3 linked regions of the Homo sapiens genome follow. The protein of the gene in region 3 binds, or shares a complex with, the protein of the main gene of each other region. Each region holds a gene or a part of one and is shown on either strand. Other genes may lie near its edges.

Region 1 (8,041 bases), about 130 Mb from region 3:
TAATTTTTTAATATTTTGTAGAGAATGAGGTCTTGCCATCTTGCCCAGGCTGGTCTCGTACTCTTGAGCTCAAGCAGTCCTCCCGACTTGGCTTCCCAAAGTGTTGGTATGACAGGCGTGAGCCACCGCACCTGGCTGGTAATTCTGTTTTTAATATTTTAAGGAACCTCTATACTATTTTCATAATGGCTGTACTAATTTATATTTCTACCAACAGTGTACAAGCATTCTCTTTTCTCCATGTCCTTGGCAACACTTGCTATTTTTCATCTTTTTTATTACAGCCATTGTAACAGTTGTGAGATGTCTCATTGTGGTTTTAATTTGTATTTCTTTGATAATTGGTGAGGTTTAGCATTTCATATATATATATATGCTATTTGTACATCTTTTGAAAAATGTCTGTTCTTGTTTGCTCATTTTTTAGATTGGGTTATTTGTTTTCTTACTATTGAGTTGAATGCCTAATGTGTTTTGGATATTAACCCCTTATCAGGTGTATGTTTGCAAATGTTTTCTCCCATTCTGTAGGTCATCTCTTCACTCTGTTGATATTTTCCTGTGCTGTGCAGAAGCATTCTAGTTTTATGTAATCCCATTTGTCTCTTTTTGCTTTTGTTGCCTGTGCTTTAGGGGTCATATCCAAAAAATCATTAACCATACCAGTGTCTCAGAGCTTTTCCTTTGTATTTTTCTTTTAGAAACTTATAGTAGTTTCACAGTTTCAGGTCTAATGTTTAAGTCTTTAATCTGTTTTGCGTTGATGTTTGTATATGCTGTGGGACTAAGGTCTATTTTCATTCTTCTGCATCTGGGTATTCTGTTTTCTTGGCACCATTTATTGAAGACACTGTCTTTTCCCTATTGTGTCTTCTTAGCATCTTTGTCGAAAATCAGTTGACTGCCAATGTCTGGATTTATCTCTGGTTTCTTTGTTCTCTGTAGCTCTATGTGTCTGTTTTTATACTATTGTCATTCTGTTTTGATTACTATAACTTTGTAGCAGATTCCAGGTCAGGGAGTGTGATGCCTCCAGCTTTGTTCTTTTTGTTCAAGATTGCTGTGGCTATTTGGAGTTTTTTGTGGTTCCATGTGAGTTTTAGGATTGTTTTTTCTATTTCTGTGAAAAACGTAACTGGAATTTTGATAGGGATTGAGTCCAGTCTGTATGTTGCTTTGGGTACTGTGGACATTTTAACATATTATTTCAGTCCATGGACATGGGATGTCATGCATGTTCTTCCATTTTTTCATCAGCAATTTGTAGTTTTTAGTGTACAGCTCTTTCATCTCCATGGTTAGATTTATTCCTAACTTTTTTTTTCATAGCTATTGTAAATGGGATGTTTTCTTGATTTTTCAGAAAGATAGTTCATTGTAAGCATATGGAAGCACTACTGATTTTTGTATGTTGATTTTGTGTCTGCAGCTTTACTAAATTAGTTTATTAGTTCTAACAATTTTTTGGTTAAGTCTTTAGGGTTTTCTATATTAAGATCCTGTTTACAGCAAACAGGCTTCTCTATTTTTGATTTGGATACCTTTTATTTCTTTCTCTTGCCTAATGGCTCTGGCTAGGACTTCTAGTACTATGTTGAATAGAATTGGAAAGAGTAGGCACCCTTTTCTTATTCCTGATCCTAGAGGAAAAGCTTTCAGCTTGTCACCGTTGAGTATATTAGCTATGGGTTCGTCATATATGGCCTTTATTCCAATTTAATTTCTAGTGAGAGTGAAATGGGAATGTGAGAGAAATGGGAAAGATGAGCAATACATTTTAGAAAAGCAGAAGGGAATCACCGTATTCTATAAGAATATGTGGCTTTAAGCAATTGGTGATATTTAAAAGGGTCAGAAAATAGAATTACTCCATGTTGTATTTATTATTTTAAAATCTGAGGGCTGTTTTCTCATGTCATTTTACATGACTATGATTCATCTTTAAAAAAATATGGAATGTAGTGGCCAGGCACGGTCGCTGTAATCCTAGCCTGTAATCCTAGCACTTTGGGAGCCTGAGGCAAGAGGACCACTTGAGTCCAGGAGTTGCCTGGGCAACATTGTGAAAACCTGTCTCTATGAAAAATACAAAAATTAGCTGGGCGTGGTGGCACACAGTAGTCCCAGCTCCTCCGGAGGCTGAGGTGGGAGGATTGCTTGAGCCCAGGAGGCAGAGCTTCCAGTGAGCCAAGATCGCCCCACTGCACTCCTGCCTGGGTGACAGAGTGAGACCCTGTCTCTCCCCAACCTCTCCAAAAAAGGTGGGGGTATAAAGTAGGAGCAGCAAGTTTTAGAGGTAGAGAAAGTTGATCAAGAGACAGCCATTATCCTCAAAAGTGGGCAGAGATCTCTCCAATTTACTTAGAAAAAAAGTAGACTTAGAAGAGTTATGGATTGCTAAAGATACTATAATTTATAAGCTGCATCCTTTTTCTTATTTTCCACTCTAGTGATTCAGTTGTCATATCTAAAACTACCATTAAGACTTTTTTTCCTGACTTTTGGCAATCCAATAATTACTTGTCATTACATTGCTAAAAGTAACTTTAGTTTGCCCAATTTGCCTTTCCCCTTCCTCATCAAATGCATATAGAAACATGACCATTTTCAAAATGAGTTACAAGTAGGTACCTTTTAATTTCCTGTTACTGTTTTAGCATTAATCTGGCATTGCTTTTAATTCGTTTCTTTATTTCTCACAGGAGTATTCCACATCTTCATTTTATTCTACTAAAATTAGACTTAAAGATTTAAACCCAAATTTGTCTTTAATCACAAAATTAATTTTATAAAAATGACAGATCTGTAGTAGAAACTTTATGTTATCTACCTTTTATACTTTTGAAGCAGGTCTGCTTTTGTTTACTTTTTAAAAAATGTTAAAGAAATTATTTATATGAACCTTTTTAAGGTTCAAATTCATGATTAGATATAACAGACTGGGAAAAGAGGAATTATATGTAGAGAGAAAAATTTTGGTGATAAATTGCAGTAAAATCTTCATTCTATTTTACAAAATCACAAATTCACATTTCGTTTTCTGAAAAACAATTTTTATTTATTAGTAAGACAAACTCTTTCCAGTTAGTTCTGATTTAGATTTTATGATTACTTATAGAGAAATATTACTGAATTTTAATAGTTTTTGTTTCGTTTAATTAATTTGGTGATTATTGTTGACTCCTTTTTAAATTCTTTTTTAAACAGAGGACTGCTGTCCAGGTCTGTTTTGCAAGCACAGAGTGCTTCTCCAATCTTCACCCATGTTTATGCAGCATTAGTGGCAATTATCAACTCAAAATTTCCACAAATTGGAGAATTAATCCTCAAAAGGTTAATTCTTAATTTTCGAAAAGGCTATCGAAGAAATGACAAGGTATATATGAATGGCTTGTAAGTAGAATGATACATAGGAACAAACTAACAAACCAGTATCAACAAAAGTAAGCAAGGTTGATTTTGACACAGCTACATAACATAATGCTTTTTAAAAACTGTCTTTCATGAGAACTTCTTTGATCTGTTAAATATCCCTGGCCACTATTGATGAGCCACAAAAATGATGGCTATAACTGTAGAACTATAACTATTTAACCAGAAGGGATACTCTTTCATGTGTTTTATTTTGTAACTTTCTTATAATGTAAAAATTATACTTGTGTGGTACATGTTTTAAATAGATGATGTTAGTAGGCCATAGATTATGTAAATAAATGAAAATTGGGTTTAGTTTATAGGTTAACTTTCCACCTTTATTTTTCAGCAACTTTGCCTGACTGCTTCAAAATTTGTGGCGCATCTTATTAACCAAAATGTGGTAAGTAATTATCTTCAATACTTGGTCCCATTCAGTGGCATTAGACCAGAGGGTTGATGCCACTTCACTGATACCTCTCTATTTTTGCTTTGCTTTATAGTCCTTGGGATAAAAATGTTGGATGATATTTTCATTTTAAAACTATAATAAATATATTTAATGTTCTTTTTTTTTTTCTTTTTTTGAGATGGAGTCTCACTCTGTCGCCCAGGCTGGAGTGCAGTGGCACAATCTTGGCTCACTGCAAGCTCTGCCTCCTGGGTTCACACCATTCTCCTGCCTCAGCCTCCCGAGTAGCTGGGACTACGGGCACCTGCCACCACGCCCGGCTAGTTTTTTTTGTATTTTTAGTAGAGACGGGGTTTCACCATGTTAGCCAGGATGGTCTCGATCTCCTGAACTCGTGATCCACCAGCCTCGGCCTCCCAAAGTGTTGAGATTACAGGTGTGAGCCACCACGCCTGGCCATATTTAATATTCTTTAATATAACACTTTGATGCTGATCAAAACACTTTAGATATTTATCAAATTAATCTGACTTAATACTGTACATGGTTACTTGACTGCAAACCATTCCTTTGAAGAACCATTCCCTTCATTTTTATAAAACAATAAAGTTGGTATCTCCTCCACTTCATTCCCTGCTGTTCATGAGAATCTAATAAATATCTGATATTCTACAAAAACCTCTATTCCTTGCAACCACACAGGTATAGTCATATATTTTTAGAATCACTTGATAGAATAGAGTTGATCGATTTTAATCTGTTTCAAATGCAGGTAATTTTATCATGCTGTTATTCAGTTTGTGTTTATTTTATATTCATTATTTGATGGTTTTGATTTAGCTTTTATTTAACCATGAAAATGCTAAAATTGTCCTTGCTCATACTCAAAAGTTTCCTTCAGATATATATTATCATTTCCAATTTAATATCATGTATAACAGGAAGAATTTTAAAGTCATGCTTAGTCTTATTTCACTAATATTAAATATTTTGATTCTTATTTACATGAAAATTCTTTCACTCTTACAAATCTTTTAGATTTTGACCTAATTAGTCATCATATTATTACAGTGATAACTTGCTACTTAAGACCATGGAAACTTAATTTCACATCTGTAACCAGAGATATATTTCCGTTTTTAAATGTGTATTACACTTAGACTAGAGATTTTTGGCATTGCCATGAAACACTCGATATGATAAATTTTTTGCATCTTCCAGCTGTGGTACAGGGCAGTATTTTCTTGTCACTGACCTAAGACTGTTTGACACCCCTCCTCCCCTAGTAAAAAGAAGTAGTGGGTGTCTTTGATGTTGTGCACAGCTGGAAGAAGATATCTCCTGAGTTGAGATTTAGACTTCTTTCCTCACCATCTTAAATCACTGTCTGACTTTAGAAAGGCATATGTATGGTGTTTTAAACATTCTTTGTTGTTCGTTTTCTTCTCTTAGCAAACTTCTCAATAGAATTTTATTCCCACTCTTCCTGGCATTGTTTATAAATGTCAGTTTTTGAACGTGGCCAGTAATAGTTTGATTTAATTTTTTAAAAAAAGATAGACTATTCAAAACTGTTGTGTTCCAGAAGTTGTTAAGATATTTTGTGATAAAATTAGTATTCATGTAACTTAAGGACTATTTGTGTCTAATAGAGTTGCTGATAGAATGAATTGGGAAATGTATATAAAGAATTGTGATCATGGAGAAGGGTATTATAAATCATATTACTATTTCTTATGTAGTAATTATGAAAATAATTACCTTATTAGAAAGTAGTATATGATTTTTAACATATTTTATCTATGACACTTTCCGTACATAATGGCTAAGAATATTTCTTCTGAAGATAATTCAAATAGTTGTATTCAGCATAGAAAATTAAGATTTTTGAAACAGTCATCTGAAAATTCTTAGTAGACAGATAATAAAAGTGATAGAAAAATTGTATCCCATATTTGGAGTATTTCCATGTGCTTTATAAAACTTTGCCCATCATATGTGCAATATAATTATTGTAAACAGATTTACTAATTTTTAGAAATTATAAAAATAATTTAATGTATGTAAAAGCATTTTGTTTCTTCCTTGTATATGTATTTTATTTAAGGCACACGAAGTATTATGCTTAGAGATGCTCACTTTGCTCCTGGAAAGACCAACAGATGATAGCGTTGAAGTAGCTATTGGTTTTCTTAAGGAATGTGGCCTCAAATTAACACAAGTGTCACCAAGAGGAATCAATGGTAAGTGTACATTCATAGTTTGATGTTAAGTTTTTATTATATTTATTGCTTATTTTATTGTCTTTTCTTTCTGTTAACTTTTAGCTATATTTGAACGCCTTCGAAACATTCTGCATGAGTCTGAAATTGACAAAAGAGTTCAATATATGATTGAAGTGATGTTTGCTGTACGGAAAGATGGATTCAAGGACCACCCCATTATCCTAGAAGGTCTTGATTTGGTGGAAGAAGATGATCAATTCACTCATATGCTCCCTCTGGAGGATGACTATAATCCAGAAGATGTTCTTAGTAAGTCCGGGGCATGTTAGTTGGAAAGAGGCTTACCAACAAATGTAAATATAGAAAATAAACATTAACTTTTACATTTTTTTTAGATGTTTTCAAGATGGATCCTAATTTTATGGAGAATGAAGAGAAGTACAAAGCTATTAAGAAAGGTATGTAAAATTTTATAAAATAATTTAGTTTGGATAAGTAGAAGCAATTTAAGTAGTTACGTAATACTGATAGCAAATATTTAGAGATCCCCACCTAATGAATCGCTGCTCTTATAAAGTTATTCTCTTAGCTGTTTCCTCGGGCATTATTTTTTTCCTGGTGCTTGCCCAGGGTTTTTTACTTCATTCTGAATTACTTACCCCATTGTTCTTTCCTCTTTCCCTCTAAACTATGCAACACTTACGTCTCACCCATCTTAAGAAATATTCATAGATTAGTGGTGGCCTTTATTTAGCTTCTCTACCATTTACATTCTGTGCCACCCAGTTTAGTATTCAATTAAGTGGTATACTTTATTGTAAAGTGCTATACTTTATTGTTTCTTGAGGTCAGGTTAATATCCTTCTGGTAGGATGAATCATAGTATTGGTGCCTCTCTGATAAAATAAATTGATCATTTTCATTTGTACATCATTGGTATATTGTAAGTACTAACTTTGGACAGGTTTTGATGTGTAATTTATCTTTGACATTACTAGCTGAGTGACCTGTAGCAAGTTACTTGTTTGTTGGAAGACTAAATGTTACCTTTCTATGGAAGGATATATAAAACACAGTGTTGTGTATTATCACCTACAATGATAGCTATTATTAGTTACTATTTTCACATTTGTATTATTTTCCTCCTAAAGCTAACACTCAGGCCTACTTACATAATAATTTTATGGGCTTATTTCTCTTGAGTTGTAATTTTACTGGAGAAGTATTTATTGCTGTGGAAGCAATAAAATTTACCTTTGTATTAAACCCCAAAAGTTTGTATTAAAAGCTCTCTGATTATAATAGAAATGTAAAGAGTTGGTTAGCTTTGCAAAATCTTTTATCAGGCTAACAGCACCATTGGGCAAAATGTAATTTTAGTTTTTGTCATTTGTTTGCTTTTAACATAAAGACCAGCCTTATGTAGTCTCATATACAGAGAAAGCAGAAACCTAGAACTCTGTCTCTGTCTGCATTCCATTGTTCAGTAGTGCTTAGAAGTAGAAGGTTGAAATGAAAAGTAAAATTGGGAGAAATCTTCCATTCCTCTGCATTATCCTAAAAACCTGTTATAATAATGAGTTTCTCTTCTTAGATGCTGATTTCCTAGGAGCTTTTCACTGTAATATGCCAGATTCTTTTTTTCTGTTATAATTTCATTTCCAAACAGAGAACTCCATAGATCCATTTTGCCTTCTTTTCTTATGAACCTCTTTTCCTACAGTCTCCCTGAAAAATGCCAAATGTTTTTTGTGAAATTCTTAGATACACCTGATTTGATTTCTTTCTTTTTTAAACTTGAGAATTCTCTATCCATTTCTTTAGCATCTAGGCAATTGGCCAATGCCTGGAAAGTAGTACTTTCTTTTATTATAGCAGTTCTCAAATTCTTTCGTCTCAGGATCCCTTTACACTCTTGAAAATTATTGGCAACTCCAAAGAGCTTCTTTTTATGTGGGTTGTATCTATTGCTATTTACTATATTAAAGGT
Region 2 (8,041 bases), on a different chromosome or scaffold from region 3:
CATATTAGGAAAGAGAATAGGTATTCATTATCTCAAGAAGATAACTGGATCAATTCAAGGCTGAAAATTTACTACATAACTAGTGCCTGAATATAATAAAGAAAATGCTTAAGTGAAAGATAATGATTTACAAACTGGAGGACGAATATAAATAGGAGACAACTTGCAAGAATTCTAAAAAGCTAAAAGATCAGGGTACTGAAAATCTAAGAATGAGTATGATGGGACTACTTTTTAAGACTACTGAATGAAAGAACTAATGGACAATAGTTGTTACAGAATGGAACGTGAGAATATCACATTTCAGGGGCAGGGCACTAATAACACTAACATGGTGAGGCCATACAACTGAAGACTAAGGTGGAAAAAAATGCAAGTTAAGAAACTTAGGGACTAGGATATTGATGACTCAAGACAGCTATCTTTAATTCTCTATCAATCAATTGAAGACACTGAAACCGAAAGTGCACCCTACAAGATGCAATATATTTACAGATAAATACACAACTCTATCCCATTTACCCGTGCAGTTGAATCTCGACTACAGGTTACCAACACATCGATTGTCGGGTGCAAATCCAAACCATACACTGCACTTAAATGTCCATGATAATGCCGTATAACCTAAAGACAAAGCAGGAAAGTTAAAACTTCTAGAATTAGAAAGATAAATAGTAGTTCACAATGTTTTAAATCCTTAACTCCAAACTTACCTTATTGTATTCGAGATCCCAGCATTTCACTTGTTTGTCTTCTCCACAAGAGAACAGATATGGGCTCCTTGTGCTTACTATCACGCCCCGCACAGTACTAATATGCCCAGTCAATGACAGTTTTAATTTGCCACTAGCCAAGTCCCAGATCTGCAATCAAAGAATATTTATTTTTTTCTTTCACTGGTTACTGCAAAACAAAATTTTAGAAACCTGATTATTAAAACTGAGCTTTCAAAGACAAAAGGAAAAAGATAACAAATACGTAAAAATAAAAAATTTTGCAAAATGACTCCCCTCCAAATAAAAGCAAGAAAAAAACTGGCATGCTCAAACTGGAAAAATATTTGCAATTAGATGACAAAAGGTTAACCTTCTTGTTATATAAATGATATCTTTGATAATAACAGTAAGAAAAGTATGGTATTAAATTAACTGAGGCTGGCAACAACTTAAAGAAATCCTAAAAGCAGCAAATACAGATATGAAAAAGTTCACACTCATTAGAAATTTCATACAAAGTTTTTTAAAAAGATTAAGTATCCATTTTTGCTTACCATATTAGATATTTGTAAAGGAATGTACAACCAATGTGCTGAAAAGGATCCTCTCATACACTGCAAGTATCGATTCACCCATTTGGAAAGTAATTTGTACTTTGGGTATCAGCTTCAAAAATATTTGACCCATTTATTCCATTTATGGAACTCTACCATAACAAAATAATTTAAAATACAGAAAAAGTCTTATATACAAAACTTAACAGCATTACTTGTAATGGTGAAAATCAGACTAAAAACTCTACTGTCCAGTAATAGGAAAACAGATTACAGACTATCTAAATGATATAATATTATGCAACCACTTTAAAAGATGGTAAATTTTTCACAGGAATATGCCTTTGATACAACGTTAAGTGAAAAAAGCAAGATACAAAATTACATACTAAGAATGATTTTTTAAAAGATACACACACAGGAAAAGAGCTTAGAAGTGAAGGTATTGATACTTACAGAAATAAATACTAAAACGAAACTTATCCAAATATCTAACAATGGTAGGATTATATACAGGTCTATGTACTTTCCTAATTCTCTATATTTTCCACATTTTCTATGAATGAGCATGCTCTTAATTTTGTAACCAGTTGGAGAGAACAATGTAAGTATAAAGGAATTAGTGGTAGGTATTCAGTAGGTAAAGAAAAAGTGGTTTAAATAGCACTTTTCAAACAGATATTTATTTAGAACACTTATTAGTATAAATGATAAATTTTACTCCTTATTCAGGTCTAAAATAACAGAGGAACTGCAATAGCAATTCCTGCCACAGGAAATAATAACTGATTAAACTTACATGACAAACACAAAGTCATGTTTATTTTTTCTTCCTTCATTATTACCTTTATAGTTCTGTCAGCAGATCCAGTAACAAACCACTGATTTCCAGGTTCCACAGCAATACATCGAACCCAGCCAAGATGCCCACTGATAACCTGTATAAAACAAAGTAGAATGGGCAGGCCAACGTAGAAGTTAAAATGTATTTAAGTTTAACTGCAGCCCGAGTTTGAATTGCCCTCCCATCTTCAAATCATAAAAGATAATGACTATTACATTTTACAATAATATGAAATTATCTTCAGTGAGTTAATAGTTAACACAAATTGTGGCTCATCTATATAATGTAAACTACTCAGTAATAAAAAGGAATACATTATTAATACTTGCAACAACTTCAATGACTCACAAAGTATTAAGCTGTGTGAAGGAAGCCAGTCTCAAAAAGTACATATTGTATGATTCCATTTATATGACATAGTCAAAAAGACACAGCTAAACCAACCTAAGTGTCCATCATGAGGTGAATGGATAAATAAAATGTGGTACATACACACAATGGAATACTATTCAGCCATAAAAAAGAATGAAATTCTGTTATTTGCAACAACATGGATGGAACTGGAAGATACTATGTTAAGTGAAATAAGCCAGGCACAGAAAAACAAATATTGCGTGCTCTCTCTCATATACGGGAGCTAAAAAATAAATGATCTTCAGAGTTGAATGATGGCTACCAGAGGTTGGGAAGAATAGTGGGGAGGCAGAAGATAAAGAAGAGGTGGATCACGGGTACAAAAATAGATAAAGGGAGTAAGATTTAGTGTTTGGTAGCACTAGTTTGGTTAGCTAGTTTGGTAGCACTAGTTTGGCTAGTTAGCTTGGTAGCACAATAGAGTGACTACAGTTAAGAGTAATTTATTGTATATTTCAAAATAACTAGAAGAGTAAAATTGGAATGTTCCTAATACAAAGAAATAATATCCCAATTACCGTGATTTGATCATTACACACTGTATGTTTTTCTTTGTTTTTTGTTTTGAGATAGGGTGTCACTCTGTCGCCCAGGCTGGAGTGCAGTGGCGTGATCTTGGCTCACTGCAACCTCCGCCTCCTGAGCCCAAGTGATCCTCCCACTTCAGCCTCTGGAGTAGCTGGGACTACAGGTGTGCTCCACTACACATAGCCAATTTTTGTATTTTTTTGTAGAGGCGGGGTTTTGTTGTGTTGCCCAGGCTGGTACTGAACTCCTAGGCTCAAGAGATGCGCTTGCCTAGGCCTCCCAAAGCACTGGGATTATAGGCATGAGCCACCATGCCTGGCCTACACACTGTATGCTTGTATCAAATTTGATATGTAGCCCATAAATATGCACATCTATTATGTTAGCCATAAAAATTAAAAATAAATTAGAACTGAAATTATTGAAAAAAAATAAGACAACTATAGTGATAGAAAACAGATCAGTGATTGTCAGAGGTGAAGGAAAGTGTAACTACAAACGAATAGCACAAGGGTGTTTTTTGAGGTGGTGTAACATCTATATCCTAATTGTGGTAGTGGTTACCCAAATCAATACATCTATTACAATTCATTAGAGCTGTATGTCAAACAAAAAGGCTCTTACTGTACAATCATTTGAAAAATGAAATTTTTAAGATACATATTAAATTATGTGTAGCTGTACATTTCCTACTATGTACATTTTCTTTTTTAAAATTTTCTGTTTTTAATTTTTGTGGGTACACAGTAGAAATGTATTTATGGAGTACATGAGATATTTTGGTATAGGCAAGCAATGCAAAATAAACAGTATGGAACACTTCACGAATCTGTGTTATCCTTGTGGAAGGGCCATGCTCATCTTCTCCGTACCATTCCAATTTTAGTGTATGTGCTGCTGAAGTTAGCATGCATGTCCATTTTCTTTTAGATGATACACTCTGAATCATTTTCATTTATTGTAGTTGAAAGAGTAACTGGTAGGCCCAAATAAATTTCTTTATATGGTGTTTTTCCCCTTCACCTTCAAACTAAATACTTTGAACACTTTTTCTACATTTATTTAGTCTGCCATCCATATTTAGTAGCTTTATCTTGACATTTCATACTATTTTATATAAAAGTATAACTTTTGCTTAAGGAAGTCACCTTCCCAAGAGATCTTTTAAGATACTCCCTACGACTCTTCTCAATCCACCTCAGATCGCTCTACCAGCTTTTCATATTCACTCTTTTTCCTCCTTATTCTATTCTTCAGTGCTTGTCAACTACAAAGCAATCATGGTTCACATAATAAAATAAATGCAGAGTCACTCACCCTGTAGAGTTTCCACGGTGGGTGCCACTGGGGTTTTGGCATTGTAGGGGCTTTTTTAGCCATCAGTGCAGAGTTCTTGGTATTGCCAGTCTCCATGACAATCTAGACATAGAAGAGACATTATTATTATTAAAGACATCATACCTAAGGCTTCATGATATCAATTCAGAAATGGAAATGGAAAGAGGGAACTTACAAAAGAATTTTTCCATAAATGAAGAAATACAATTTTCTGTATGTTAACTTAAAAAAGCAATTATAAAATCACAGACAGGCAGAGCATTAGACTTAAGAGCACACATCACTGTGTACGGGTTCAAAACCCAGCTTGGCCAATTACTAGCTGTTTGACATTAGGTAACAATCATGTAACCTCTATGTGGCTCACCTGTAAAATGGGAAGAATAGTGCCTATTTCATAGGGTTACTACAAAGATTTAATAAGTAGTAAATGCTCCATGTAAGCTCCCAATATTAAAGTCATTTTAAGTGTATTAGTGCCACTGTCTTTCATTGTCATATTTTAACATTATTGGTTTAATATAGCAAAGACTGACAGTTCCTTCTATTTATCTTCTAATACAATATTTAAATACTATTTTAACAGGTATACTGCCTGATATACCATCTGTTGTTAGCAGTCATCTAGTCATCCAAAACATAAATAAGCCCATAAAGTTCCTGCCCTCAAGAAGCTTAAATTATACCCTCATAAGGAGGGTAGAGAGCCTGGACAGAAGACGTGCTCTGAATGGAATAAAGGAGGAAAGGAGATGTGGCAGTTACACATTCATTCACTTCATAAAGTCAAATCAATTGCATAATGAGCTGAGAAGCAAAACCAGCACTTATTTCAAGTGGCAGCATATTTTATTATGCTGCAGATAAATCAATAAAATAACTATAGAAAATTCAACAACTATTTCTACCATACTAATACCAGTTGCCATTTACTTACAAACAGATAAACTTATTTCTAAATGCTCATTTATAAGACTAGTTGTATAGCCCATGAATAGTACAACACTAACAGCACTCAAGATAACTGTACACACCAACTTAAAATTTAATAAAAAAAAAAAGACTTTCATATTCAATACATACTAACACAAGTTTCAGAAAAACTCTCCTTGCATTTTTAATAGTGGGCAATAAATACCAACATCACATTATCTTTATCAAAATATATATTACACACAATGTACAAGTAGACAAATAACAGAATTAAATTCCAAAAAATACGTTAATTTACTACCAACTTGAGTTTTAGGGCTATGAAATATGAATGACTAGCTCAGGCTGCTATTTATCTTAATAATTCCAAAGAAGAGGGAAATATGGCAACATGTTCCAAAAGTTAGAAACCTGCTATTTGATGCAGAAAAACTTACTGAATTCATCGCTGTAGGCTGTGGACGGTCAGAAGCCCCAGGATGTCGGTATTCACTTCCACTAGGGGCAGTACGATTTGCATCAGCCCTGGGGCAAAAGAAATAATATTTTCAAAGTAATTAATGCCTCCAGTCATGTATTCTGCAAAACTAACCCTTTATTTTAAATTGTTATAAAGTCCTGATAAAGGAAAATGTCATATAATAGTTATAAAGAAATTTTAAAAAGAAAAAATGTGAACAGTGAAATATGCTTTTAAGATCTTTGTAATTATAATATTTCATACTTGGTCTGCAAAGGTAATGCCACCGCTAAGGACTGTGCAGCTGATTCACTTGGCATTCTCTGGATCTTAGTATCTGCTGTCAAAGCAACCCCTATTAAAATGAAAAATCAACTTCTTTTAGTAGCTGTGTATTATTCATTTACATGCACTTAAAATAAAATGATGAAGGAAAACATACACCAAATGTTTATTATCTCCAGGCAGTGATATTATACAAATTTGATTAAGTTTTGCTCATCTTTGTTTTTAATTTCTACAATAAATACTGCTTAATAACACGTAACTCAAATTTGATTTGATCACAGCCCACATGGTATTAAAGCAGCCCAGAATAGTAAAGTTAATTTCCATTATATTTGGGTATTAGTTTCAAGTCAGTATTAAGCAGTTCCTCAAATACTAACAGAATGTTTCCAAGAGTGGATGTAACTTACTAAAACTAGAAACACCCAATTTCCCTGTACTTTCTTTACATACTAAGCCTTTTGTCCTCTACCCTGTTACACTGGCCACTCCATCTGTGGACCAATGCCTTAATACAGACAGAGGACATGTTTCTCAGATACTGCTTCTAACATTTCCATCATTTTTACAAGCTTAGTGATATTTACATGTCTGCCTAAACCACCAGATAATAAATAACTAGGCCTGCAACAGTTTTACTGTCTTTGAATTCCTAGCACATTGCCTGAAAAATTATACGTACTTAAGAATGTTTGCTGAATGAAGGCATATGAGTATTCATTATTACCTACAAAGCTATGCATGGATGCTTGGCTACTGAGCTTATCTTGCATTTTATAGGCAACAAGAATCTCATTATTGGCTCGTTAGTGAAAATATATGTGACATTTTTAAGACATTTTCAATATATAACAGCTCACTAACCAGGTCCTGGTGGGTATGGATGTGTACCTGCCACAAAGTATTCAACTTCTTGTCCTAAAAAAACACAAAAAAAATCAACAGTAGTGAATTTACCTTATACAAAAGTTATCATCTCTTTAAATGTATCAAGTAATATTAAGTTTTCAACTGGATCTATCAAATTTTCTCAACTAAAGTCAAGCCTCAGAAATAAGGGAAGTTGATCACTTTTGCTTTGATCTCTGTAAACCATGTCCTTGACCATTTGCTATATAGCAATGGTATACAAAGAAGCCCTCCTATCAAGTGACAATCCACTCTGGTATTTCTTCCAAGCAAATGGTTTCCTGTGGAATCTTGAATTCTCTTTACTTATTAAGATTTCAGTATTTAATTTCATCTTTCTGAATTACAGACAAGATAGATGGTGTCCTCACAGGTTAAGAATATTCTCCAATTTTTTCCTTTAATCTCTACTGTGACCTTCTCCACACTCTAAGAATCTCTGCCATCATTATACTACCATTTTTATTTCCTATAAGAAAAAAGTCATCAACAGTATTCCCATGAGGATCAAAACTTCCATTATAATACAGGTACGGCCATTAAATACTGTACGACCACAATAAGTCCTGCCAGGAGGGGCAAAAATAACATATTTTATTTTTCTGTTTTTAAAATTCACATATAAGTCTGACATTTCTGATAATACCATACTCACCTTGATTGGCAGGGTACTGTTTATGAACATATGAATCCGTTGCATTCTGAGGACCCTTCTCTTTAAGATTTTCTTTTGAAGTAGGCATATGCAACACAGGACCATACTCATTACGAAGCTTGATTGCCATTTTTCGTTTGTGACTATTTAGAAATTATAAACATAAGAACGTATCCATAAATACTTTAAAACAAACACTTAGCTTAAGTTTGCCCATTCACGTAGAAAAAGTTTCTAGTATGATTTTAAGTAGTATTTAAAAGAATCAAAAATTTCCAAGGGCATTTCCCCACCATATCTGTTCTTTTGCTTACATTCGACCACACAGCATTCATTAAACCTACGTAATATTTTAGTTTGTTACCTAATAAATAGAAAACCTTTTATGATAAATTGTCAAGG
Region 3 (8,041 bases):
AAGCTTTGACTTCAAAAAAAGCAAGGTGGGTAAGAGGATCCATCGATGGGTCACATAAATTTCCTTCTTTTAGTATTAAGTCTGCTGGAGTGAATTTGATGTGCATCATTCCATTTGCAATAAAACAGAGTTAGGTGGTTCCTAGCACTCAGAACCAAGCTATCTGTTATAATCCTGCTGGTTTTACCTTATTCCTCCTCACTGTATCAATATATGAAGATATTAGTGTTATTCTCTTACAGTTTCACCAGAAAACATGACTTTTATTTTATCTCCTTCTTAATTATCTTATGAATCAGAGACAGCAGGCAAATGTGGAAAGATCATAAGCTTTGGAGTCAGACCTAAATTTGAATCTAGACTCACTGTCTAGCCTTATGACCTTAAGCAAGTTAAGCATGTTTCGTGACCTTTCTAAACTTTACTTTTTCCTGAGAATTGCGTAAAAAGTGTCCCATCTTAAAAACAAGTGTTTGATACCACACTTTATTATATCCAGCTTAAAAATTCGGCTGGGTAAGGTGACTCACACCTGTAATCCTAGCACTTTGGGAAGCCAAGGCAGACAGATTATCTGAGCCCAGGAGTTTGAGAGCAGCCTGGGCAACATGTGAAACCCTGTCCTACAAAGGACAGAAAAATTAACTGGGTGTGGCAGCACGCGCCTGTAGTCCCAGCTACTCAGGAGGCAGACGTGGGAGGATCACTTGATCCCAGGGAGGTCAAGGCTGCAGTGAGCCAGGATCGCACTACTGATCTCCAGCCTGGGTTGACAGAGTGAGAGTCTCTTTCAGAAAAAAAATTTCGTGAACCCTTTCATCTGCCATCTGATTTCTTTGCTCCCCTTCACATCAGAAGTTTTCCAAAGTCTTACCTAGACACTTTTTCAGTGTCCTTAAGTTCCTTTCCCTCCTTCAGCCACTCTAGTCATGTGTTATCCCCACAACAGCCCTGAAACTGTTCTTGTCGAGATCACAAGTGACCTTTTAGAGTGACTTCAATCTACTGGCTTTAAATTCAAGCTATATGTTATATATATATATATGTAATAATATTATTATATATATATTATAATATTATTATATATATATAACTCCCAAATTTATACCTCTGGCCTGACTTCTCTGAGCTCTAAACGTATATCTAGCAGTTTATCTGACATACCTCATTTAATGTCTAACAGGCCACTTCTTTTTCCTTCCGTCTTCTCATCATAGTAGCACCACTCTCTAATCCACTTGTTCAAGCCTAAAAGCTAGAATTCCTCACTGAGTCCTCCCTTTCCCCTACTTCCCCTATCCATCAGCAAGTTCTTTGGATCTACCTCCAAAACGTAAAATGTAACCTGAAACCACCTGCTTCTGTACATCTCACTGCTATTACCCTTTTCCAAACCACTGTTATTTCTTACTTGGAACTGTAATAACTATTGAACTATCTTCCTGCTTCTCTAGTTTCCCGCAGTTGTCTCATAGTAACGAGAGTGATCCTTTACAAAGTTCCTTTGCTTAAAATCCGCCACTGGTTTTCTTTTTCACATAGAATAAAATTTAAGCCCCCTACCATGTTCTTACAAGGTCCTCCTTAATATGACCCCTCCCACCTCTCCGGCTTCGTATTGTACCACACTGCTCCTCATTCATCATATGCTGTCTTTATTAGTTCTGCCAAGCCCACTCCCATCCAAAGAGATTTGTACTTGCTGCTGTCTCCTAGGAGTCTTCCGTTAGAGCTTACGTATCTGCCTCCTTCTTGCTGTTTGGGTCTCAGCTTCAGAGAAGTTTCCCTAATCAGCATCTAAACTAATCTCTTCTTTCCTTTTCCTCATCTCTGCCTTAGTATCCTGTTAGAATTTTCTCTATAATACTACTATTTGAAAACCTTGCTTGTTTTATTAGATTGTCTGTTTCCTTACTTACTGTTTACCTCTTCTCACTACAATATTATCTGATGAGGGCAAGGGCTTTGCCTATCATGTTCATCTTTGGTATTTAGAACAGTAAATACCATGTAATATTAAGCACTCAGTATATATTTGCTGAATGAATAAATACCTGTTTTCTGATGTCATCCCAAGGATTAGAAATAACAACAATAAAGCCTTAACTACATACAGTGCCTAGCACATAATAGCATCTTTAATGCAGATTCACACTATATATTATTGACTGACTTATTGAGGTCTTTGAGAACCATTCTGTTTTTATTGACTGAGCTATTATTTGTACAGATTTTATGCTTTTATATACTTCCAGTTCCTTTATGCTCTCAAACTTACTCTGATATCATTAAAAAGTAGCTGTAACTCTTGGGTACTCTCTTACTTTGGAAAATGTACTACAGTATTGCTTGGAATCTATGGTACTGTTATTTATAAGATGCATTGTTACTTTAAGAAAAAACTCTGCCAGTTTTAAGATTTCCAAGGTTAGGCCGGGTGCGGTGGCTCACGCCTGTAATCCCAGCACTTTGGGAGGCCGAGGCAGGCGGATCACAAGGTCAGGAGATCGAGACCATCCTGGCTAACATGGTGAAACCCTGTCTCTACTAAAAATACAAAAAAATTAGCCGGGCGTGGTGGCGGTCACCTGTAATCCCAGCTACTCGGGAGGCTGAGGCAGGAGAATGGCATGAACCTACGAGGCAGAGCTTGCAGTGAGCCGAGATTGCGCCACTGCATTCCAGCCTGGGCGACAGAGCGAGACTCCGTCTCAAAAAAAAAAAAAAAAGATTTCCAAGGTTACAATGTGTATTTTTGAATAATAAAATATGGTTTTAAGAAAAAATAGCCTCTGGAAATACATGTCCAAACAAATTGAACTTATTGAAAGGAAGAAGAGTACCTATCTTTTGTGGGGAGTAAAGTGATATTCTCAGCTGGGCGCAGTGGTTCACGCCTGTGATCCCAGCACTTTGGGAGGCCAACGCAGGCGGATCTCCTGAGGTTGGGAGTTCGAGACCAGCCTGACCAACATGGAGAAACCCCATCTCTACTAAAAATACAAAATTAGCCGGGCGTGGTAGCGCATGCCTGTAATCCCAGCTACTTGTGAGGCTGAGACAGGAGAATTGCTTGAACCTGGGAGGCAGAGGTTGCAGTAAGCCAAGATTGCGCCATTGCACTCTAGCCTGGGCGATAGAGTGAGATTCAGTCTCAAAAAAAAAAAAGTGATATTCTCTGTGTTTGGAAAAATTAACCTTTGTAAATGGGCTGTTGTACTATACCCAAGAGAAGACACCAGTTCTAGGACGGTGTTTCGTATCTAGTATATGAGGATCATTACAAAAACTCATTTTGTAAAAATGTTAGGGAAGCACATTTAAATCAGAGTATTATTGCCATTTTAGGGGAAAGTATTTCTTTTTTTCACTCCTGTCACTATAAGATGGCATTTTTATATAGTGGAAGCCCTTTTATCTAAAAGGATTGAGTCAGTTAATTAAAAATGTCAGCTAATGTAAGCAGTCATTAAAAGATACACATACTTTATTTTAAATTAAAGCGCATAACTGTAGATGCATTAATCATTTGGTATTGAAACAAAGCCTTTTGAGCATAAATCGACTGATAAGTGCTTTACATGATTGTCGTCACAAAAATCACAATCAGAATATGTTCAGTTTCTTTAAAGTAGAGCAAAAATTGATGCTTGAGGTGTGGAGTTACTTTCCTAGTGATTTTCCCCCAGTTTTCAACAGTTGTCTTACCCATACCTAATTCAATAGCAATTCATATGATTCCTAGTCATCCTAAAATAGTCACTTAGGTTATATGGAATCAGTCACTCTTTTTGCACCCACATTTCATCAGTTTCCATAATATTTATGTCACACAAATAGAATGACAGATACGACTGATATGAACACGTCAAGAATAAATACTGTACAACTGATTCTTTATAAGTATATATCTCACATGGATGGAGCAGAGCAGAGATGTACAGGCATATCAGACAGTAGCCATCTGGAATAGGCTAAACCCATCAATTGTAGAGGTTGATGGAGGGATGGAGAGCATGGATTAATCCTGTGTGTTGCGTAAGTGGGGTTATTTAAGAGTGTTTCTAGTGTAATATACAATTTTCTCTCTTTAAAAAAAATTTCTAGATTTGATCCATATGGAAAGAATAAGTTCTCCACTTGTAGAATTTGTAAAAGTTCTGTGCACCAACCAGGTTCTCATTACTGCCAGGGCTGTGCCTACAAAAAAGGTAAGTTTCTTTTAATACCGTTTTCTATTCATAAAACCGACTTCATTTGCTGCTAATTTGGTTAACAGAAAAGATGTAGCCTGTCATAAATTCTGTTAGCCAAACACTCTCTTTATCCTAAGGCAAAATAGAACCTAAAACCTGTTTATAATTAAAATTATATATATATATATATTTTTTTTTTCTTTTCTTTTCTTTCCTGATGCTGTTAAATTATGTTTTAAGCTTCAGGATTGACTTAAACCAAACAGTTGGTATTATGATTTGATTGATCACATATCTTCTTTTGTTTCAGGCATCTGTGCGATGTGTGGAAAAAAGGTTTTGGATACCAAAAACTACAAGCAAACATCTGTCTAGATGTATTGATGGAATTTCTGGCTTTCTAAATGATTTTACTTTCTGCCTTGAATTTTCAAGGCATAGATGTCAACTTACAGAATAACATGTTTTAAGATAATTAAGTTTAAACCAGAGAATTTGATTGTTACTCATTTTGCTCTCATGTTCTAAACAGCAACAGTGTAACTAGTCTTTTGTTGTAAATGGTTATTTTCCTTATAAGAATTTTAAGAACTAAGTGGCAAATTCCATGAAAATATTTCTCAGTTCTGTATGCACTTTTATTTAACATTATTCATATAATTCTCCCCCCACCACTTTATTTATAGATACTGCAAAAGTGAGAAGGAGATAATAGATACTTTGCTCTGAATTTGGCATCCAGAGTTAACATTTCTCCCCTCACTCCCTTGCTGGTGTCATAGTTATTAGAATCAGCAGCCTCTTAACTAATTGCGGTTTCATAGGATATATAAATGTTTCAAGCCATTATTGCTGAATGGTTCTTTAGTTATTAACCTAGACCCAAATCAAAGACCAGTTGGATTTATGATATTTTTTATTTGTTCTTGCAGCCAAAGTGCCAGTTTCTTTAATATGTGACCAAGAACACAAGGAGCATCCATATGGCCAAATAAATACACTGAATTTTAGAAAAACATATTACTTTGAATTCAAATTGTCATGAAAACCAGAACAGTGTTTGTCCATGTTGCATGTAATGAAAATAAATCCCTGCTCTGAGAAAAGCTCTTTGAAGCAAAAACCAAACTTTTTTTTTTTTTTTTTTACCTCCTGTCTTGCCCCCTAAAAGAAATAAATAGAGCAAACATCTTGACTCTCCCTTTTTAAAATTTGTTTGTTTTTTTTTTTTTTTTTTGGATACAAGAGCTCACTCTGTTGCCCAGGGTGGAGTGCAGAGGTATCATCAGGCTCTCTGCAGCCTCCATCTGCTGGGCTCAAGCAATTCTTCCCCCTCAGCCTCCTAAGTAGCTGGGGACTACAGGCGTGTGCCACTGTGCTCAGCTAGTTTTTATTTTTAGTAGAGATGAGGACTCACTATGTTGCCCAAGCTGTTCTCGAACTTCTGATCTCAAGCAATCCTCTGGCCTCAGCCTTCCGAAGTGCTGGGATACAGGTGTGAGCCACAGAACTTGGCCTCTCTCTTTTTTTTTTTTTTTTTTTTTTTTTTTTAACACTACAGGTTTCAAATGAATACTTTTCTTATGTTGCCTTCAGAGGTTCAGGACTTCTGCTTTTAAAACCTGCAGCCTACCGTGGGAAACCAAAAAAGCATTCCCTATTTCCAACTGCAGTATGTATAAATACATATCACTACAAAATGTATAGAAAGTGTGATGAGATACATGAATGGCATTTTTATTGGTCATAACATTTTGATGAAAAGCATTTAAAGTTTTAACTTTATAAGGCTTTTCAAAATGTGTTTTTCTGAGATACATTGTTATTTATTCATATCCAGAAAAATTACAAGGATAATACAGAATATAATAAATAATTTATCTGAGAGCAGGAAGTATCCTCTCATGCTTAATCAGTTTGGGGTTTTTAATTATAACACAGGAAACTCATAACAGGACCTGGTCAGAGAGCATCCCAGATCCATTAAAGATTGGATTCATTGACTTGGAGAAAAGTACATTTCTCAGGGATCAGCTAGAATCTGGACTTGCCTAACTCACATTTCATTTTTTTTGTTGTTGTTGTTGTTTTTATAATTTCAACTTTTATTTTAGATGTAGGGGTACATGTGCAGGTGAGTTATATGGGTATATTTTGTGATGCTGAGGTTTGGGGTACAAATGATCCTGTCACCCAGGTAGTGAGCATAGAGTCCAACAGGTGGTTTTTCACCCCTTCCCTCCCCTCTTCCCTCCAGTAGTCCCCTATGTCTGTTCTCATTTTTATGTCCATGTGTACCCATTGCTTAGTTCCCACTGATAAGTGAGAACATGCGGTCTTTGGTTTTCTGTTCCTGTGTATATTCACTATAATGACCTCCAGCTGCATCCATGTTGCTGCAAAAGACATGATTTTCATTCTTTTTTATGGCTGCATAGTATTCTGTGGTGTATATGTACCAATTTTCTTTATCCAGTCCACTATTAATGAGCATCTAGGTTGATTCTGTGTCTTTGCTGTTGTGAATAGTGCTGTGATGAATATGTGAGTGTATGTGTCTTTTTGGTAGAACAATTTATTTTCATTTGGATTTATATCCAGTCATGGGATTGCTGGTTCAAATGGTAGTTCTGTTTTAACTTCTTTGAGAAATCTCCAAACTGCTTTCACAGTGGCTGAACTAATTTGCATTTCCATCAGTGTAGGCGCATTCTACACTGCACTGGCTTCTACAGTGTTGAAGCATTCCGTTTTTCCCACAGCCTCACCAGCATCTGTTATTTTTTTGACTTTTTGATAATAGCCATTCTGACTGGTGTGAGATTGTAACTCATTGTGGTTTTGATTTGCATTTATCTGATTAGTAATGTTGAGCATTTTTTCATGTTTGTTAACCGCTTGTATGTTGTCTTTTGAGAAGTGTCTGTTCAAGTCTTTTGGCATTTTTTTAATGGGTTTTTGTTTGTGTGTGTGTATTTTTGTTTTTGTTTTTGTTTTGAGATGGAGTTTCACTGTTGTCACCCAGGCTAGAGTGCAATGGCACCATCTCAGCTCACTGCAACCTCCACCTCCCGGGTTCAAGCGATTCTCCTGCCCCAGCCTCCTGAGTTGCTGGGATTACAGGTGCCTGCCACCAAGCGTGGCTAATTTTGGTACTTTTAGTAGAGACAGGGTTTCACCATGTTGGCCAGCCTGGTCTCGAATTCCTGACCTCAGGTGATCCACCCATCTCAGCCTCCCAAAGTGCTGGGATTACAGGAGTGAGCCACCACACCTGGCCACGAGTTACTTGGTTTTCGTTTTCTGAATTGTTTTAGTTCCTTATAGATTTTGGACATTAGACCTTTTTCAGATGCACAGTTTGTGAATATTCTCTCCCATTCTGTAGGTTGTCTGTTTACTGTATTGATAGTTCCTTTTGCGGTGCAGAAGCTCTTTAGTTTGATTAGGTTCCACTTGTCAATTTTTGTTTTTGTTGCAATTGCTTTTGAGGACTTAGCCGTAAGTTCTTTCCCATAGCTGATGTCCAGATGTTATTTCGTAGGTTTTCTTCTAGGACTCTTATAGCTTGAAGTCTTACATTTAAATCTTTTTTTTTTTTTTTCCCCAAAGACAGAGTCTCCTTCTGTTGCCCAGGCTGGAGTACAGTGGTACAATCTTGGCTCACCACAACCTCCACCTCCCAGGCTCAAGCGATTCTCATGCCTCAGCCTCCCAACCTAACTGGGATTACAGGCACATGCCACCACGCCTGGCTAATTTTTCTATTTTTAGTAGGAATGGGGTTTTACCATGTTGGCCAGGCTGGTCTTGAATTCCGAGCCTCAAGTGATCCACCCACCTCA

Evidence for each region.
Region 1: CRIPT (region 3) and CWC22 share a complex: the UniProt entries of both Homo sapiens proteins name them as parts of the minor spliceosome.
Region 2: CRIPT (region 3) and PLRG1 share a complex: the UniProt entries of both Homo sapiens proteins name them as parts of the minor spliceosome.

Annotation. Positions count from the first base shown.
Region 1 is NC_000002.12:179,968,969-179,977,009, reverse strand, and holds part of CWC22 (pre-mRNA-splicing factor CWC22 homolog), read left to right. Parts: intron 1-3,207; coding exon 3,208-3,376; intron 3,377-3,763; coding exon 3,764-3,817; intron 3,818-5,933; coding exon 5,934-6,069; intron 6,070-6,153; coding exon 6,154-6,360; intron 6,361-6,446; coding exon 6,447-6,509; intron 6,510-8,041. UniProt on the Homo sapiens protein: Required for pre-mRNA splicing as component of the spliceosome. As a component of the minor spliceosome, involved in the splicing of U12-type introns in pre-mRNAs. Promotes exon-junction complex (EJC) assembly.
Region 2 is NC_000004.12:154,540,072-154,548,112, forward strand, and holds part of PLRG1 (pleiotropic regulator 1), read right to left. Parts: intron 7,783-8,041; coding exon 7,640-7,782; intron 6,994-7,639; coding exon 6,940-6,993; intron 6,143-6,939; coding exon 6,052-6,142; intron 5,853-6,051; coding exon 5,765-5,852; intron 4,476-5,764; coding exon 4,374-4,475; intron 2,209-4,373; coding exon 2,116-2,208; intron 864-2,115; coding exon 714-863; intron 625-713; coding exon 523-624; intron 1-522. UniProt on the Homo sapiens protein: Involved in pre-mRNA splicing as component of the spliceosome. Component of the PRP19-CDC5L complex that forms an integral part of the spliceosome and is required for activating pre-mRNA splicing.
Region 3 is NC_000002.12:46,619,657-46,627,697, forward strand, and holds part of CRIPT (cysteine-rich PDZ-binding protein), read left to right. Parts: coding exon 1-25; intron 26-4,107; coding exon 4,108-4,211; intron 4,212-4,506; coding exon 4,507-4,571; 3' UTR 4,572-8,041. UniProt on the Homo sapiens protein: As a component of the minor spliceosome, involved in the splicing of U12-type introns in pre-mRNAs. Involved in the cytoskeletal anchoring of DLG4 in excitatory synapses.